Regions from separate parts of the Homo sapiens genome. Here all the other regions are reported to be linked to region 1. Evidence: microRNA targets listed by miRTarBase, many of them from high-throughput screens and not tested one by one. Region 1 holds a microRNA gene; each other region holds the end of a gene's coding sequence.
The links. The annotated mature microRNA hsa-miR-374a-5p reads UUAUAAUACAACCUGAUAAGUG and lies in region 1 at 1,523-1,544, opposite strand. An mRNA with a match to its seed (bases 2 to 7 or 8) in the 3' UTR can be bound and repressed. Matches are read on the target gene's strand: a 7mer-m8 pairs with bases 2 to 8, a 7mer-A1 pairs with bases 2 to 7 and ends in A, and an 8mer does both.

Region 1 (5,077 bases):
GAAGTCTAGGCTCACTATCTGTATACATCTAAATAAATGAGTATTTCAGACACCCCACTTCTTCATTTAAAAATTAGTGTTAGGGACCCTCTAAACATTTGCCTCAGCTTACCTTTCTGCCTTATCTCACATTAAGTCCTTATTTCCCATATTCTCATTGCAAAGAACTGTGTAGGAAGGAGGGGGGCAAGGACGAAGGCACCAAAGCATGCTATGTCCACGTGCTTCAAGTTTGAATATAATAAAAGGTATTTCTAGAGTAGAGGTTCAAAGCTTGATGTTGAAGGGCAGGGTATAACTGACTGACTGCAGGACCCTGGGGGAGGTCTTATAATCTTCTACTTTAAAACATGTCTTAGCTGGCTTATCTGTAAAAGAGGAAAAAGACTTGTCACAAGCAATGACAAATGAAGTAAATAAATATGAATTTCTGGTCTGGTGAATGGAATGAGAAATGAAACCATCACTGTCGAGTGATGATCCAGAGTGGGCACAGATCTTTTTCTACAAAGGCTTTGTGGGCCACAATGTCTCCAATATATTTAATGGCAAAAACAGCAACTACTTTTGCACCAACCTAATAGCTACTTAATTGTGCCACTGGGCCGCAAAAGCGGCCCCAGGTAAAACATCGATGAATGAACATGGCTGTGTTCCAATATAGAATGGTATTTACAAAAACAGGTAGCCCATGGGCAATAAAGTTTGCCCACCCTTGGTTTAGAATATGGAGTCTGGTTGGGTGCAGTGGCTCACACCTGTAATCCCAGCACTCTGGGAGGCTGAGGGAGGTAGATCGCTTGAGTCCAGGAGTTCAAGAACAGCCTGGGCACCATAACGAGACCCCTTCTCTACGAAAAATACAAACATTAGCCAGGGGTGGTGGCACACACCTATAGTCCTAACTCAGAATGCTGAGGTGGAAGATCACCTGAGCCTAGGAGTTCGAGGCTGCAGTGACCCGTGTTCGCACCATTGCACTCCAGCCTGGGCAACAGAGTGAGAACCTGTCCCTTAAAAAAAAAAAAAAAAGAAAGAAAAATGCAAAGTCCTATCTAAGAATACTATTTGGATGATTACCTGGGCCCTGAGGATGAGGCCCCAATCTAACAGTTATCACTCAAGTCCCACCAAGAAAGCAAGTGTCAGCAATAGCAACAGTTGCAACATCTGTAAATATCAAGGACTGAAATCCAAACACAAAAATGGCATTGTCTCATGAGAAACTCTTAGGAAGATATATACAGAAATATCAAATTTCTGACCACATGCTTTTTGAAGAAACAGCTGACAATCCAGAGCCTGTGGAGCTCACTTTAGCAGGCACACAATAAATGTTTGCTGATGAGTCATTCATTTATTCATCTAATAAACATTTACTGAGGCCTACTAATGTGCCAGGCTGGGCTCTGGAGATGAAGACACCTTCCTTGCCCTCAAGGAGCTCACAGTCTAACTGATAACAGGAAGAGAGACAGGCATATACACAGACAATTACAATACAATCTGATAAGTGCTATAACACTTATCAGGTTGTATTATAATGGCCGATGTAAAATTTCTTCCCAGGGGGTGCTGCTCCAGGCTGCTGCTGGCTGTAACATCAAGAGAGGTGAGGAACAAATTATAGAAATCAAAGGTTAAATGCTTTTCGGTTATTTCAAATATTCAGGCTTTCCCTAACCCGTGGCCATAGACGGAATTGGGAACTAGACACTGGCATGATGTAAAATGGGACTTCCATGCACAGACTTCCAATAAAGGAACTTCTCAATCCCCTCCTCTAAAATATGAGCTTTTTTTTTTCCTTTTTGCTTATACTCCTCTTAACCTCCCCACCCTACTACCCACATGAGCCTGGTTTAATATCTACAGCTAGCAAAATGCTGAAAAATGGGAGCTTACAACTAACTGGATTAACCCAGTGTAACCGGATAGCAAAAAGCAGTAAGTAATAGCTCATTTGGCACTTCTAAATCCAATAATCCTCATCCTTCACTGGAAAAAAAAAGTTAGAATGTTATTAAATACAAAATAGATAATATACAGATCAGAGTAGGAATAAGTTAGAAAAGTTTATTTAATAAACATAATTAAACAGATTCTCTAAACTAGAAATAACATTCAGTTTCAGGAAACCAGAATTAGACCCCTCCAAGACCTTTGAGAATATCTAATTCACCTATGTATTATAAACAAGAAAAATGAAACAGAGAGATAACACACTCTGCCCACTCCCTTTTCAAAATCATGTGAGTGATAGTAACAGACTCCTTGAGGCAAGATTATTACTGTAATAGTTATTTGGTTCAGATGGTTTTATACAAAGATAAGATGGCATTTTTCTGTGCCTCATACCTTTCTTAATAATACCTAGGTTTTTACTGGCTTTTTTGTCTCTGACCAGCAAATAGGGCTGATAACATCAGCAAGTTGTTGACAGTTATACTGAGATCACTGTTTTGGGACCCAATGTCTCTATGAGGCTGTTATTTAATAAGCTTAACATACTATTTTCCCCTAAAGTTATTTCACTGCTCTTGCCTATACACTGTTCCTTTCTGCCAATTAGCCCACTCCTGGTGCCTTCTCACATGCTAGCGTGTTCCTATTAGCATTTCACATCCCCAAAGCATTTAACAGTATGTATAAATGTGGACACTTCAATATTGCCCATATCCTCCCTCAGACCACTCAGAAATATTTAAAATAAGACCAGTCCCTGAATGGATGGGGGAGAAGGGACCGCTGTTTTGTTTCTTGTCTAAATTAGTTTCTCATTAGGGACAAAATGTTGCCCTGTCTTCTCCCCATGCCCAGAGCCAGGAAGCACCACTGTTGTACAGTACTCAAAAGTGCTTTCCTTTTAGATAAAAAGAAATGGATTTCTGTTTAAAGGTCAGACAAGGCTGGGTAAGGTGGCTTATGCCTGTAATCCCAGCACTTTGGGAGGCGGAGGCAGAAAGATTGCTTGAGCCCAGGAGTTCGAGACCAGCCTGGGCAAGACCTCCACTCTAAAAATAAAAACAAAAATAAGATAGAGGTCAGACAAATGTTATCTCAAAATGGCTACCAAGAACCAGACATGTATCCACACAGCAGTTATATTTGGAATTGCAAACATTTCTTCAGACTCAATGGCAACAAATATTACTGGGAGCATATCTGCAACAAACGACATTTGCAACTTACAAATAACATTCAGGCACAAATTGAATAATTCACAAAAGGAAATAAGAGCTAGTAATTAAGATCTAAAAGTCCAGCCTCACTAATAATCAGAGAACTGTATCACAAAACAAAGATATCGGCCAGGTATGGTGGCTCACCCCTGTAATCCCAGCATTTTGGGAAGCCGGGGTGGGAAAATCACTTGAGCCCAGGAGTTCAAGACAAGCCTGAGCAACATGGCAAAACTCCATCTCTACAAAAAAATTTAAAAATTAGCTGGACATGGTGGCACACACCTGTACTCCCGCTACTCAGGAGGCTGAGGTAGGAGGATCTCTGGAGCCCTGGAAGTTGAGGCTTCAGTGAGCCATGATCACGCCACTGTACTCCAGCCTAGGCGACAGGGGGAGAGCCTGTCTCAGAAAAAAACAAAAACAAAAAAACCCCACAGAGATATCATTCATTCATTTACATATGGAGTCAGCAAAAAAAAAAAAAGCAAAAACATTTTTTATAAGTACCTAAATGACTGGGTACAAAAACTGACATTAATTTTTTGAAAAGTAAATATGCCAATTCTTTATAATGTTCAAATCTTTTGACAAATAACTAATTCTAGAAGTCTCTTCGATAAACAACCCAAAATAAATAATAAAAACCAAATGAAAAGATATTCATTACATAATTTAAAATACTGAAAATCTGTAAAATACTTCCATACAACAGAACATCATGAAACAATGACAATTACAAAGAATGTTTAACATGGACATGCGCATGTTATAATGTTAAAAACAAAACACAATATAAAATAGTACACATATATTATCAACTGCAAAGAAAAATGCAGAGAATGAAGTGAATAAATGTATTAACAATAGTTATCTCTGGGTGGTAAAATCATGGATGTTTTTTCTCCCATGCTTGATAGTTACCCTCAGGCAAAGTTACAATATTTACCAAATTTCTAGACTGAGGGAGCTATTCAAATTTAAACAATAGAATAAAAATCACAAAATAGAAGATAAATTTGTCAAATAATTTCAAATCTCTACTAGCCAAAAATTTAAAGACAAAAATTAAGAGGCAAACAATAACATGGAGTAGGTATTTATAACATTACAAAAGTCTGAATACTAATCTTTATTTACAGAACACAAACAGATAATAATAAACAGTAAACTAAAACTTCAACGCATAAATCAACATAAGATATGAACTATCATTACATGAAAGAAAACTGCTGAGATATATATGGAGGAAGAAAATCCAAACTAATAGGCAAACGAAAAATTAATACTGGTTTTTATCCATTAAAAATTAAAAAACAACAACATTCAGCGCTTGTATGAGTAAAAATTGATACAACCTTTTTAGGAAGAAATTTGGCAATAGATACTGAGAGTTTAAAATGTTCATACCCTTTGATGTACTAACTCCACTTCCACGAATGTATCCTAAGCAAATAATAAAAATAAAACAAATGTATTTTCAGTCTTTTATTACAAGAAAAAAGACAATAACCTTTCCATCACTATTGTATATTTAGATCAACACGAAATACTAATAATGGGTTAAAAAAAAAACTACTGCAGTAAATGACTGGTTAGATGTCTCAAAGCATTAGATCAGACAGAAAATCAGGCAAAACAAGAAGGGTGTGTCCAGCCTGCCGCAGTCGGCCATTTTAGACCCTCTGCAGAACAAAAAGCACAGAAAACAAGGGTAGTTAAGGATAGCCACCCCACTAGGCACCAAATCAACAATTCTTTATCTTTTGTCTCCTAGGTATGTAACCCTGTAGTCTGCACAGTCAGAAACAGAAAACAGGTCTTCTTTCTCAAATGGTTTTGGTTAGTTACAAACAAATTTTGAAATCATAAAAGAAGGTTCCTTTAAATTCGCC
Region 2 (5,077 bases), not on the chromosome of region 1:
AAAACATTTTCCTTAGAATGTTTCTTCTGTTTCCAATAATGGAAATCAAGAAGAAAAGAAAAAGAAAAAGGGCTTCTTCTCAAGTCTCTGCTGCATCTTAAGCAAAAGTATGATAACTTGTCTTCCAGGTGTCATGGTGTAAGATTTAGGAGCTGGTTCTTTATCCTAAAGGTTGCTATCACCACAGGTCATTCCTGCTTCTCAGGTATCCACCAATTTCTTCATTCTTGAGGTGATTTGTTAGGGAAAAAAGTCTTCCAAATCAAAAGTCAATGTTTGATCCCAAATCTACTTATATCAAAATACAAGTTCACCGTGGCTTGACTTACAGTCCAAACTAAGATAACTGCCTCTTCCTAAAAACCATGGAAATGTACTGCAGCCACACAGGGTCTGGCACACAGATGGCATGAGTAATTATAGAAGTCTGAATCTCTATGGGTGGAATCCTACCACCTACTTTTCATCTTCTACAAGCCTTAGTTTCATTATCTACAAAATGGGAATAATATCATCTACTTTGTTGGGATACTGGGAAGGCCAAATGAAGTCATATATGAAAAGCATTTAGCCTAACGTTTGGTACACAGAAGGCATCAACAAAAAATATTATCGGTTAGCTCCTTAGTAAAAAAGAAAAAAAAAAGTCAATTATTGAAGAAGGCATTGTCTTGTCACTCACAGGTATGAAAACTCTGAGGTGTCATATCCTATCACAGCCTCTGAGAGCACACCACAACTTTCTATGTGTTCTCCACTGTGGGTGATATCTGTAATGAGACCTGCTAAGGAAACAAAGTCGAGAACGATCTACTGAGGAGAATAAACAACAAAGGAAATGCCTTCTCTTTCAAGTTCTGGGTATTTCACAACAAACATGGTGCCTACAGACTAAATAGGGAAGTTCAGTGCAAGGAATGGAAACATTGGATTGTTAGATCTATTACTCCCTCTAGTGGCCACAAACAAGACTGTTTTTATCAAAATCCCAGTTTGGCCAAGATTGCAACTTGGATATGTGTATGTATCAACCTTGAGTTTGAAAAGAAATAACCAGTCTGTATTTTCTGCCTATGTGGGGGGGAAAAAGGGGCCTGATGTTAAGAGAAGCCAGTGCTGTCACAAATTTTATCAGTTTGGTTTTTATTCCCTGAATGAAAATACTAATCAATGAAGAAAAGGCACATGCGAACTTTTCTACTATATTGACTCTCAAGTGAGAACTGAAGATAATCGCCTTTGTTGCTTTATGAAAGGGAATTTTGAAATGAGCATCTTTCTAAAATAGCAATTTTTTACCACAGGGTGATTTACAAGCCAAGGTAATAATTAAATATGCCCAAGACTATGACTATTTTTCTCTGACCAAACCCTTCATTTTTATAATGGGTAATTATAGTAAAAACTTCAATTAACCAGAGCCCTCAATTAACATGTTATCCTCCTCTTGTACTGTATTTTTAGGGCAAAGTAGAAAAATAATCACAAGAAGTTATTCATATGACAGATTTAGTTTGAAAATCTAGATGTGTTATCTAAGTAGGAAAAAAAACCCTGAAAAATTACATTCACACCATAATATATAAAAAACACCTACATATAAATGATATATATATAAATATATATAACTAGATAATAGCTGGAAGGGAATATAATTTTTTTAAATGTGAATATGGACCAGACATGGTGGCTCACGTCTATAATCCTTATGATTTGAAAGGCTGAGGCAAGAGCATCACTTGAATCCAGGATAACACGGTGAGATCCTGTCTCAACAAAAAACAAAGAAACAAAATAGCTGGGTGTGGTGGTGCATGCCTGTAGTCCAAGCTACTTGGGAGGCTAAGGAAGGAAGATCACTTGAGCCCAGGAGTTTGAGGCTGCATTGAGCTATGATCACACCACTGCACTCCAGCCTGGGCGACCATGTCAAAAAGGAAAAAAGGCTGGGCACAGTGGCTTACACCTGTAATCCCAGCACTTTGGGAGGCCGAGGTGGGTGGACTGTTTGAAGTCAGGAGTTCAGGACCAGCCTGACCAACATGGCAAAACTCTGTCTCTACTAAAAATACAAAAATTAGTTGGGCATGGTGCCGCATGCCTGTAATCCCAGTTACTCAACAGGCTGACGCATGAGAATCACTTGAACGTGGGAGGCGGAGGTTGCAGTGAACCAAGTTTGTGCCACTGCACTCCAGACTGGGCAAGAGTGAGACTCCGTTTCAAAAAAAAAAAAAAAAAAGTGAATGTGATAAAATTGTGAACTACTTTCTACTCTTTCTGCTGTTTTTCTATTACATTGTTATTTGTACAACAAATACATTAAAAATCAGAGAGGTACATATCCTGCAACATCTATTCTACATTGATAGAGGCTGCCATACCCATTATCAAGAGACAAAACAGGTCTCTCAGGGAATATCTCCTCTAACATAAGCTGAAAAAAGACAGGTTTTGTATATATATATAATTTTCAACTAATTTGAAAATATATTTATCAGGACATTCTTTATTCAGAAGCATCAATAACTTACCAAGTTTCACTGAAGTATAAAACTCAACAGACCATGAATAGGCTAAGTAACCACCTGTGAATGGAAACCTCATGATACAAGTCCGTATATTTAAAATACTGTTTATTTGTGATTTAACATTAATTAGCATTACATCTAAGAGCAATATCAGATAACATTTATACATTTTTCCACAGGACACAGAGGTTCATTGGCTCATTCTTTATGCCAAAGCAAGTAAATAGAGGCATTAGCAAAAGGTGCAATAGTTCACTGTTATGTTTAAAAAATATTTATGCACATTGCATTCATTTAGATATATATATTTTTAAAAAGTTATGGAAAAGCATAGTTCACAGGTTACTATTTCTACATACATTGTAATACAACATAAATGATGTAGAACATTAAAAAAATCTTCCAATAGAGAGTTAAGCAACTGAAAGTTTCCACCAAGAGATTAAAACACTGATTCCAGTAGTTAGTGAGATCTAGAATGACATTTCCAGGCTCTGGCTCAACTCTGCATTATCATATGCACACAAACAGAGCCAGCTCCAAAACACACTGTAATCAATGTAATTTTTTGCATGCCAACTCACCCTTAAGAAACACTTTGAGTTATTTTTACCCACGATCATTCTGGATCATTGATTTTGCATCGAACTGTGACATCACTTGGGTGAAAGGGGAAACGCCTATATTAAGCCTAGGTTTAAATTTGTATTTACATTAAAAAGAAAGGTCACTGAAAAGATTTTTTTAAATCTGTAAAAATCAAGAAGTGGTAGTTTTCTTACTGGTGGGATTAGACCTGCTGATTTCTTCTAGTGCTGCCCTCTAAAGATACAAAAAATTAGAAAGATTTGACCCTTTTAAAACTCAAATATCAACCAAGAAAGACATTGCTTTTGGCAGAGAAGCAGAATTTTAGAAATTTGGGACATGTTTCCAACAAATCACACTTTGTATCCTATCGTGAATATGAGTCACCATCAAACTAGAATTCTTCTTTTCACATCCCATCTTTTGTCCCCTTAATTTTTCACTTTCCCTTTCATTCTTTTTCATTTGGCTACCTTATGAGACTTTTCTTTACTCATTAGCAATACTAAGAGAAAAATACAGTTTAAGATTCAAATATGAATCTAGATGTACCTTTACATGCTCTAATCCTGTTTTAACACCAAGTCCCTGGATTCTGGAGTTATATTTAAGTATACTCAGTACCAAGCAGCCTTAAGTATGCTCTACTGTGAAAAGATTGGCTAATATGCTTAGGACACTTTTATACTGAACGGTATACAAACATCAACATACAAAATTTTTTTTTTTTTTTTTGCCAGAGTTAAACTAAATAACCCATGTTATGTGTACAAAATCCCCTTTGTTGAAAAATAAGGGGCTTTCTAAACTAATAAAAAAGGAAGTTTTCAAAAATTATAGTTTATTAAAACAACTTTTTTGGCAAACAAAGTTACTTCAGGTGAGGAAATTTTATACTGTGAATAAAATTCCAAATGAATCTTTTCTTAAAACTTTTTAAAAAATTATGTGCCAGTGTATACTAATGCTATAGATTCTTGTCTTAGAAGTTTTTAAAGCATTCTGTTAATGCCCACTGAAACAATGGGACTCCAAAAATATAGTCAATAATCATGATAAAAAATTATAATATGATTATCAAGTGAAGCAGGTATTGAGAAATAAAAATTCTCACTTGCTCACTGGCAATTTCTTTCTAACAGATATTATGGAGAAGGCCTGAAGTAATTCAGACAGATAGCTGTTTATGGTGAATTATAATAATACTTCATGAGGGCAGAGCTAATTAAAACTAGTAATTGCTTAAAATTCAAAGCCATTTCTGGACATATAAAATGAGAGATGAATCTGAAAGTTTTTCTTTTGTAAAACCTCTTTCCAGTTCTTAAAGTCCAGTTTGCTACATCCCCCAATCTGATCTACCATTGCATATTAATGATCAACTTAAATGTGGTATTTAGATGTGCAATGTCACATTGTTATAATAATAATTATAAAAAGACTTTATTTAGGCCTCAACTTTCTCCTTTTTTTTGTTCTTTTTCAGAAAAGAAGGAGTGCGGAATTTCTTCTTTTTCTTGGATGGCGATTTTGAAGGGGAGCCTTCAGGTGACAGGACTTCTTCGATTTTCTCTGGAGACTTAATAGTAATCTCGATGTTTTCTATGGTTGTACTTGTGCTTAACCTACTCACTCGCTTAGCAAGCTCATCTTCAACATCATGCATATCATCCTTGCCATTTACTACCATGACAGGCACTTCCATGGAGATGAAGCTCTTGGAAAACAGCTCATGGTTTTCTACGAAAGGGGAGGGTTTTTTGGGGGTTATTTTACATACTTAACATTTTTGCTCTACTTTACAAAACTGAAATGTTTTAGCAATGTAATAAGGCATTACTTTGATTCCAATGAAGACAGATCATTATTTTAATAAACTGTGATCTATTAGCAAGAAGCTAATTTTCTTTAATGATATAAAGGGGAAAGGAACAAAGTTGTTAAACCAAAGAGCAAAA
Region 3 (5,077 bases), not on the chromosome of region 1:
GCTGGAAGGAGCATGCGAGGGGAGTTAGTGTTTCATGGGAACAGTTTAAGTTTTACAAAATGAAAAGTTATGGAGTTGGATTGTGGTGGCTACACATTATGAATAAACTGTACACTTAAAAGTAGTTAGCAGTCTGGGCAACATAGCAAGACCTCGACTGTACAAAAAAAAATTAGCTGGGCATGGATGTGCACACCTGTAGTCTCAGCTATTCGGGAGGCTGAGGTAGGAGGAAAGCCCAGGAGAGCAAGGTTGCAGTGAGCCAGGATCACACTGCTGCACTCCAGCCTGGATGACAGATTGGGATGCTGTTTTAAAAAAAAAAAAAAAAAAGTGGTTAATAGGATGGTAAATTTTCTATGTGTCTTACCACAATTTTTTACAATTTTAAGATGGAAACATGCCAAAAGGACACAAGAGTCACCTTGACAGGTCTTCTGATGTCCAAATTTGAAGTAATTTGAACATCAAATAAATGGTTGCAATGGATTGCGACCCAGACTAGGAGTCCATTAGCTGACACACTGCATCAATGGGGAGGGAAGGCGCCTCCATGCAGGGGCAGGGTGTCGGCAGAAGGAACATTGGACATGGAAGCTCATGGATGGGCAGTGGTGGTGGATTCACATGGAAGTTGTAAGTGAAGGACAAGGATGGAGGGTAGAGGTCTGAAGAGGAACAGGCTGGTCATGTGCTTTGAGGATGCCTCCCCACAAAATACTCCTTGATTACCAAGAGACATAGTGTGACCTGACTGACAGTGGAGCAATCTGCCTGGGTCACCAAGGTTAACAAACTGTATGCCCCTGGAGTGACATACAGAGAAGAGCGCAGCATTTCTGTGGCTTTCCTGCCACAAAAGTGCTGCCTAGGTCTGGTCACCATCATCCAGACCCAGGCTGAGGGTGTACTACAGAGAGGTCTGCGGGCTTCACCCCACTAGGACGTGAAACACAGATGCCGAGAGGACTGATGCAGACAGCAGGAGAAAACTAAAGGCAACACACACCTCTTGACAGGGACCCTGGACCAGGAAAGGACAAGACACTGTTGGGACAGCTGGCGAGATCTGCATGGGGTCCATGGACTGGATGCAGTGTTCACTCCCTGACTTGGGGGAATATCTAAATTTTGAAGAGAGAGGGAGACCAGGGGAGACAATGTACACATAATTTCAGTAAAATGTACCTTTTATCTGTGAAATTATTTTAAAATAAAATTTTAAAAGTTAAAGGACTAGGTGCAGTGACTCACACCTGCAATCCCAGCACTTTGGGAGGATGAGATGACAGGATCACTTGAACCCAGTTGGACTGGCCTGGGCAATGTAGTGAGACCCTCTCTCTTAAAAAAAAAAAAAAATCATTAGCCAGGAATGGTGTCATGTGCCTGTAGTCCCAGCTACTCAGGAAACTGAGGTGGGAGAATCACCTGAGCCCAGTCAAGGCTGCAGTGAGCTGTGATCATGCCACTACACTCCAGTGTGGGTGACAGAGCAGGACACTGTCTTTAAAAAAAAAAGTAGTAAAGAAAGGCTATATACTGCTGGGTGCAGTGGCTCACACCTGTAATCCCAACACTCTGGGAAGTCAAGGCAGGAGGATCGCTTGAGGCCACTGCAACCCAGCCTGGGTAACAGAGCAAGCTACTGTCTCAAAAAGGAAAAAAAAAGCTATATTGTAATGTCTTACTATGCAAAGCTACTCATGAAAAACTTAAGCCAGGCGCAGTGGCTCACACCTGTAATCCCAGCACTTTGGGAGGCCGAGGTGGCCAGATCACTTGAGGTCAGTTCGAGACCAGCCTGGCCAACATGGTGAAATCCCATCTCTACTAAAAATACAAAAATTGGCCAAGCGCACTGGCACGTGCCTATGATCCCAGCTACTCAGGAGGGAGGCTGAGACAAGAGAATTGCCTGAACCCGGGAAGAGGAGGTTGCAGTGATTCCAGATTGCACCACTGCACTCCAGCCTGGGTGACAGAGCCAGACTCCATCTCAAAAAAATAAAAATAAAAAGAAGAAAAACTTACTACTGTTTTTGAACTATAATTTTTTATTGTAATATTTTTAACACTTAATGCTTACTTGAGTGTATTACCAAAGTTACCCCAGGGCACCCCTTCTTCAATGAAGTACCCAGAATGAGTTTTTTTTTTTTTTTTGAGACGGAGTCTCGCTCTGTCGCCCAGGCTGGAGTGCAGTGGCGCGATCTCTGCTCACGGCAAGCTCCGCCTCCCGGGTTCACACCATTCTCCTGCCTCAGCCTCCCGAGTAGCTGGGACTACAGGCACCTGCCACCATGCCCGGCTAATTTTTTTGTATTTTTAGTAGAGGTGGGGTTTCACCGTGTTAGCCAGGATGGTCTCGATCTCCTGACCTCATGATCCACCTGCCTCGGCCCCCCAAAGTGCTGGGATTACAGGTGTGAGCCACTGCGCCCGGCCCAGAATGAATTTTTATAAATAGTCGAAGACACAAAAGATCACACTGGTCGGCTTCCAGTGTTGCCGCCAGCAAGTACGCTCCCTGCGAAAGTGCATCAAGTCAGGGCCCCAGGCTCAGCTTCTCTAAGAACCTTCAGTCTGGGGGAGGGTTGTGATGTGAGTCACAGGTCCATGAATTCTTTTTTTGTTGTTTTTAAAGACGTAAAGACACTTTTTCTCCTTTCACTGCTTTTCTCCTCAAAATGTTGCATTTCCTTCTGCCCTTAGTGTTTTCCATAACCTTCTGATCACTTTCAGTTATTCCGGCAGTACAATCATAGGCTGGCTTTACAGTGAAGCCTTTATAATCTTCTTCCACTTCTTCTAAAATTAAAAAATGAAAACCAACTAGCCCAACCCTCAACCAGGCTGGAACGCATGTCCTCCTCAGTGCTCAGTTATGGTGAGAGATGAGGATGCCCTGGGAAGTGTCCGGCAGTCTCCTCTCAGCTCCTTGGGGTCATTTCTTTGGGTAGCAATGTCAGGTCTGGACGGGGCACAAGTCCCTACATCCAGGTACCCAACATGCCTCTGAGGCAGCAACGCTTCCCAGAGGGGCTGGCCCTGGTCCCCCCACGACGAGCTTCCATCCCCTTACTCACATCTTCCCTTATTTTAGTTACTGCTCAACAGGACCAAACACTTCATTAGTAGCTGTTTATTGATCAATGGTTTGATATAAAGTTATTTCAGATCTTCAGACTTTTGCCCAGATGGAATCACAAGCATTACAAAGTTTTTTTCTTAAAAATAAAAAAAGGATAGGGGCAAGTTGGGAGGGGACCAACCTAGCAGTAGTGGCATTTGAGAATAAATTAACAAAAAAATTTAGTATTACCATTTATTGATGACAAACACTTAAGTTTTACTTACATTCCATGGGGAGAAAAATTCCAGCGTAAACAATGAATGGAAGCAGTACTTAACTCGCAGGGCTACCAGGCTTTCCATACGGACCACACGCAGAGCCTCAGTGCACACACTTCTGTGTACAGTAACACAACATCAAAAGCAACACAGCTGTATACAGAAACGTAGGTCATTCTTTTCAGCCCTAATGGAGATGTAATTAACAGTATCGAGCACTCTGGAAAATCACTCTGCAGGTTTATATGGACTACATGGAGATCATATCCTGTAGTGTAGTGAAAGCTAAGTCCTCAAGAGCCATATGTATAGATACACAATGTTTTTTAATAATCTTTAAAACAGAGATCAAAGTTCATTTAAGTCCTGTTTGCATTAACAAAAATAAAAATGAAATAAAAATGGAACCAAATGATCATCTAAAGTTTAAAATTCCTAAATTGTCCAATTTATACAACTGTGGGAGACTTATTCAAGGTTTTTGAAAGTCCAGGACTGTTTCAGCTGAACCAGAGGGCACACAATTTGCATCACTGAAACTGTCCTGGGTTAGTCAATGAAATAAAAATGTCTAACCACATACACATGGATATGATCTTTGTCGGTTAGATTATTGATAAAGTCAGTCTCAGACAAGTTTCCAAACTGTGCTATTTAACTAGATACAATTGAGAAATTCTCAAATGAAAATTTTATATAGTGTCATATCAATCAAAAGAAAATAATGAAACTAAGAATACAGATCACTGTTGGAAGAGAAAGCAGTGGTGATGGTGTGGGTACTGCAGGAGGTGGTGGGGCCGTGGCACACTAGAAAAGTTGGGTCACGCTGAGTAGGAAGCATTTGATTTTCTCTGGTGCTTTTAGCTCTGGGGCCGGTCAAAGGCCTCTCTCTGGCATGGCTGTCCAGGGTTTGTCCCAATGTGTCTGAGTGAGCCAGCTTGAGAAGGGGTCGTGCCGTTTCTTCTTTCACACAGGGGAAAAAAAAGACCAAACACGGAGGTGCCCAGGGTGTGGATCTGCTGGTGTCCCGGGAGAACCAGCTGGCTGGGCAGCCCTTCTTCCCCACAGGCAGCTGCTATTGCGTAGGGACCGCCAGGTCACCGAGTGGCCATCACAACAAACCCCAGCACAGTCCAGCCCGGCCACAGCCGCCTCCTTGTGTTTCTGTTGTCTTCCCTGCTGCTGCCCACATCCTTTACCCACCGTGTCTCTCGGCCCACTGGAGGTATCAGAAATTCCAAATTTTCAAAGCAGTTTCAGTATTTTCAGTATATATGTTGGGATTTTATAATGGTTCATGGCCAGAAAAGGTTCAGCACCTCCCACACCTTTAAGGAAGAAAAATGAAAATGACACTAGTTTTGAAATGTAAGAGAATTAAAGTACTGTTAAAAATGAAAAGAAATTGGCAAACATCAGGAAGTACAATACTAAAAGCCCCAGTTTATGATAACAAAAGTTTTCCCAGGGTATGCCAGTAAGTAAAATACGCAAGGAGAGTGTGTGTACTTATCTCTGTGGGGGGAAAGGAAGAAAATGAGGGAAGAAATATATGTCTATATTTGTATAAAGAAACATACAGGAAAGATACAGGAGAAACTAGTAAAAATGTGATCTATGGGGGAGGCGGTGGGGAGAATAGGAGGGATGGGATGGGGGCTGTCCGAGGGGAAGATTGTACCTTGTAAAATAATGCAGAGTTCTGACCATGTGAAGGTAT
Region 4 (5,077 bases), not on the chromosome of region 1:
CGGTTCTACACCCGAAAGGATGTCCGGAGACACATGGTGGTGCACACTGGAAGAAAGGACTTCCTCTGTCAGTATTGTGCACAGAGATTTGGGCGAAAGGATCACCTGACTCGACATATGAAGAAGAGTCACAATCAAGAGCTTCTGAAGGTCAAAACAGAACCAGTGGATTTCCTTGACCCATTTACCTGCAATGTGTCTGTGCCTATAAAAGACGAGCTCCTTCCGGTGATGTCCTTACCTTCCAGTGAACTGTTATCAAAGCCATTCACAAACACTTTGCAGTTAAACCTCTACAACACTCCATTTCAGTCCATGCAGAGCTCGGGATCTGCCCACCAAATGATCACAACTTTACCTTTGGGAATGACATGCCCAATAGATATGGACACTGTTCATCCCTCTCACCACCTTTCTTTCAAATATCCGTTCAGTTCTACCTCATATGCAATTTCTATTCCTGAAAAAGAACAGCCATTAAAGGGGGAAATTGAGAGTTACCTGATGGAGTTACAAGGTGGCGTGCCCTCTTCATCCCAAGATTCTCAAGCATCGTCATCATCTAAGCTAGGGTTGGATCCTCAGATTGGGTCCCTAGATGATGGTGCAGGAGACCTCTCCCTATCCAAAAGCTCTATCTCCATCAGTGACCCCCTAAACACACCAGCATTGGATTTTTCTCAGTTGTTTAATTTCATACCTTTAAATGGTCCTCCCTATAATCCTCTATCAGTGGGGAGCCTTGGAATGAGCTATTCCCAGGAAGAAGCACATTCTTCTGTTTCCCAGCTCCCCCCACAAACACAGGATCTTCAGGATCCTGCAAACACTATAGGGCTTGGGTCTCTGCACTCACTGTCAGCAGCTTTCACCAGCAGTTTAAGCACAAGTACCACCCTCCCACGTTTCCATCAAGCTTTTCAGTAGGATTCTGGGACATGGATTCATTACAGAAATGTATGTGTAGCTGTGCCCTAGATGACCATTTTTATTTTAGTGCCTACTTTAAAACAGTATAAAAATTTCTGCTTTTGTATAATACAAATTTTCATTAAGCCAGTATAAAATAGAAACTAGCTTTTAAACTGAGCTTTGGAACCATTTGTGTTCAGTTAAGTTTACCTGGGTATTTTGTCCTGATTCACTGCCAATTGTCACATTTTAAGACTTTTTTTTTTCCATATAGGAAAGCCATTATTAGTAGTAAACTTTTACAAATCCCATTTTCAAATTACTTTTAGATCTTAAAATTTTCATTTTTGTCTAATAACAGTGGCTCTACCTTTTGACATCTGGCTCATTAAAAAATTTAGCAATAGAATGTAAATTGTATAAAAAGTTTGTGAATAACTCAAGGGTTTAAATTTTCTTACTAGCTTCTAAATGGATTAATAATCAAGTGCTTCAAATGAATTAAGAGTCCAGTTTCGGAAGATAATAAATGTTTGTTAGATACACCATAATTTCAGATCAGTATATTCTGAAGACTCCCTGTTGTCTGGCTAAAATATTTGCCATCTTTATTATGAGCCTTTAAGGAAAACAAACCCTAAACACAAAGCATCAGTATTTATAGCAAAAAGAGACTCTGTTAGGTGACATGGCATTTCGTGTCACTTAATAGTTGGCCCTAAATTAGTACACAGGATATTTTGTCGTGTTTCATCCTTCTTAACATGCTATCTTTTCATTTAATAATAGTAATAGTGTATGGCATTGGGGTCTTCAGAGTCGATATATAGGTAGATCTCTTTAGTCTTTTCCACCTTTCACATCCAAGGGGTGGGTCAAGTGCAGCCAGCAATTTATTTTCATTGTTGGCCCACGGTTAGTCCATAATCTAGAGCCATTGTGGAACTGCAGCCATGAGGTGTGTTTATCCCACAGTGGATTGACTCAGCCTCTGTGGGTGACAGACTTCTAAGCAGGAAGATAGACGTGAAGCACATGGTTACATTTGGGAACTTGTGTAGGGATCATGGCCCCTGTAGCCAGGGTTAAAAACTGGACTTTTTAGAAGTAAAGTAAAAGCATATCGCTTATATCATTTCTTGCTGAATTTGATATGTTTTTCTTTCCCTTAAGAATCAAAAGCAGAAAACAAAAACAACAGTCCTACTCCGATGTTATCTTTCTGATTCAATGTGAATCCATCTTTCCTTGCAATATTTTGGATGGAGAATTTGAAGTTAAATGCATTAGAAAACTACCTGATGAACTACCACAAAGTTTTAAGTGACTAGAAATATATACAGTAAAATCCCACTTTCATGCATCTCTGGGAAATGATAGGAGTATTGCAAATAAGTTGAGTTTGTAGAGGGTAACAAAGTAAAGTAAAACAAACCTATCTTGGTTAACATGAAAATAACAATTGAGAATATATTATATTCACTGAATAATTATAGGCTTTTCCTCACATTAGACAACCAACATAATCTTCTTAAAGGTCTAATTAATATATTTTTCTAAGGGTCAGTTGGGACATTAACCTAAGAAACATATCTATTAAGCACTTGTTAACACCTTATTTTAGGACCCTTTCCGTTGGGGATGGGGGCAAGGGTGGGAGGTTTTTAGAAGAGTATATATCTCTTTAAAAAAAAACAGAAAGAAAAATATTTCTGAGCACTCATTAGCCCTATATGGAAACTTCTTTCCTTTTTGTAGGGCCAGTTATCACTGCAGATTGCAATGTTTACCAAGAATTTCTAAAAATGAGTGCAGATTACTGAATATAATACATTATTTAAAATATTTGGGAGTAGTATAATTTGTGGAGAAATGTAAATTGTAATAATGTAAATGGGGGCTTCAATATATATATATAATACACACACACACACACATGCACACATACCGCACTTCATAGAATCAAAGTTGCTCTCTGAAGGAGCTTTGGCTCCTGATATTTTATCATGCTCCTATATTTTTTTAATCCTTGGAGCAGTAGTTTTTATACTTATGTATTTAAATTTTATTATGAAAAATTACATTTATTAAAAAAGTGTGTTCCAAAGGCATTAAAATTATATATGTTAATAAGGAAGTACATTTTTAAATTTTTCAAACTGCTCCTAGCTTTTGATTAGGAGAATATTTTTTCTGAAAGTAGGCTTTTCGCTCTGCTTCATTACTGCTTCCTTTAGTTTCTATGAAACAGATTGCTTACCTAAATCTTTAGTTGAATGATTAGTGTTCAATATTGCTTTAATCACCATATAAAAGGAAAAAAATTGGTGACAGAGCACAAATAGAAAACCTATTTTTAAATAGAAATCACAAATAGCAAGTGTGGAAGCACTACTTTATTCTGTTTAAAATGTACTTAAGAAGTCATCAAATTAGTGAACTGAGACATTGGCCTTAGTAGGCTGTATTCACTGCTAATTTAAAAAAGGGAGTACCAGGATTTATTAAGTAAAGCATTTTGGAAATGGGGAATAGCGCCATATATGTATGTATGTGTATGTGTGTGTGTGTGTGTGTATATATACACACACACACACATACTTAAATCTTGCCCTGCATGAAATTCAAATACATGGAGGCACATCTTCAGGGCACCAGTGTTAAAATTTTGGAGTCTTAATTTTCATGTGTACACCTCTTTGCCTGTTCCCACCCCCAGACTTGAAATAACACTTCAGAGTAAGAGGGAATTCAGCTAATTTGTTTTTAAAATTGACTGTAGTGGTCACTAAACCCTTTTTGAGAGAATTTCTATTAAAGATGAGGCAGACTCGCTTATTTGAATTGCACAATGTTCTAACAAGGATGTAACACAGAATTGGCTTTTTTTTCCCTAGAAAAAGATTGTTTGTTTCTATGTCAACTAGATATGATTAAAAATAAGTATTGCCAATGCTGTTTTCATTCTCTAGTGGCCAGAATCATTATCCTTGAAATTTCTGGTAGTGCCTTAGCTTGGTTAAAAAAAAAAAAAAAAAAAAAAAAAAGGGATTAACATTAAATAAAAGTAGTTTAGAATTTGGGCCTCAGACAAGATATTGAACCTCATTCAGTTTCACTTCCACATGTATGTACAAGTTAGGTCACCAAACACGGAAGTGTGAGTGTGGAAGGATCTTGGCACTGTAAGCAATGCTATCCATTGATGTATACAAGTACCTTTATAGTTATCGATCACTGTTAAAACTTTCATTTTAAAATCCTATTACCAAGTTCAGTTTTTTAAAACTTCAATTGTCCTGGCTGATTATGCATCACTCTGTGTGCAACTTTTTTATTTCATTTAGTGTTTCTTTCAAGCTGTGTATTTTTGCCTATTTGTTGCTTGTGCTTTATTTTTCTTAGTCATTTGTGGAATATAGTGATATATTGTGTTAATTTGGACAGTAGCGGTTTTTAAAAACCATATACTGACTGAAACATGAGCCAGAGCCGATTGCTTTATTAAGCTAATAATGAATGTTAAAGAGTACATATTTTCAGGATCGTTCATCTAGTGAGCAATACACATATTATAGGCCAATATTTTTTTAAAAAATAGAGCTTGGTCAACCTCTATACTACACATATTACAAGATATAGCACTTTCAAAATGAATCTAAACCTTTACAGAAACTTTCTTATAGGTTATGCCTTTTATTTTAAGACTTATTATAATTCAAGTGCCATTAGATGATATATATGTAGGCCTTTGATATATAATGCTTTGTGTACAAAAATGGTAGATGGTATTTTAAACAGGTACATTTTTACAGTGTTTTCTTATCAATTTGCTATATTGCACAGAATCAGTGTGTGTCTTTTCATAAGGTTTTACAATGGTTTATTTTTTTACAAGGTTTACGTGTCTCAAAGCACACTGTCTTCCCAGTACGTAAGTTAAAAAATACCAGTTCACCCAAGTTGCTTCTAGCCTACTGAGATCCATGTGACATTGGAGGAGATCTTTTAAATGTTTAGTATTCGTCATTAGCAATGGCTGGCTGTTAGTTCTGGTAAATGTGTGCCTAAGTTGAATTTGTCTTGTTTTTCTCACACTGTGTCAGCAGCCATGTCTACAACACAGATAAGTCTGTTGTGATCACATAGATCTACATAAGTTGTG

Region 2: miRTarBase lists ADD3 as a target of hsa-miR-374a-5p. Seed matches in the 3' UTR shown: 8mer at 4,538-4,545, 8mer at 4,314-4,321 and 8mer at 4,183-4,190.
Region 3: miRTarBase lists STAU1 as a target of hsa-miR-374a-5p. Seed matches in the 3' UTR shown: 7mer-A1 at 4,643-4,649.
Region 4: miRTarBase lists PLAG1 as a target of hsa-miR-374a-5p. Seed matches in the 3' UTR shown: 7mer-m8 at 2,384-2,390, 7mer-m8 at 4,483-4,489 and 8mer at 4,622-4,629.

Annotation. Positions count from the first base shown.
Region 1 is chrX:74,285,803-74,290,879 of GRCh38, forward strand. It overlaps MIR374A (microRNA 374a), which reads right to left and starts at 1,555; the gene lies at 1,484-1,555. The region is part of intron 1 of FTX (FTX transcript, XIST regulator); the gene reads right to left. MIR545 (microRNA 545) reads right to left here and starts at 1,407; the gene lies at 1,302-1,407. It overlaps LOC124905199 (a long non-coding RNA gene), which reads right to left. Exons shown (of 2, transcript XR_007068266.1): 2 at 2,063-4,628. RefSeq lists an enhancer at 4,653-5,077.
Region 2 is chr10:110,133,108-110,138,184 of GRCh38, reverse strand. It overlaps ADD3 (adducin 3), which reads right to left. Exons shown (of 15, transcript NM_016824.5): 15 at 2,620-4,859. The coding sequence ends at 4,567. Among named protein-coding and RNA genes, the nearest start is that of MXI1, 72 kb to the left of the region's middle.
Region 3 is chr20:49,110,209-49,115,285 of GRCh38, forward strand. It overlaps STAU1 (staufen double-stranded RNA binding protein 1), which reads right to left. Exons shown (of 14, transcript NM_017453.4): 14 at 3,131-4,685. The coding sequence ends at 4,670. Among named protein-coding and RNA genes, the nearest start is that of CSE1L, 66 kb to the left of the region's middle.
Region 4 is chr8:56,162,093-56,167,169 of GRCh38, reverse strand. It overlaps PLAG1 (PLAG1 zinc finger), which reads left to right. Exons shown (of 5, transcript NM_002655.3): 5 at 1-5,077. The coding sequence ends at 927. Among named protein-coding and RNA genes, the nearest start is that of PLAG1, 47 kb to the left of the region's middle. RefSeq lists an enhancer at 1-501.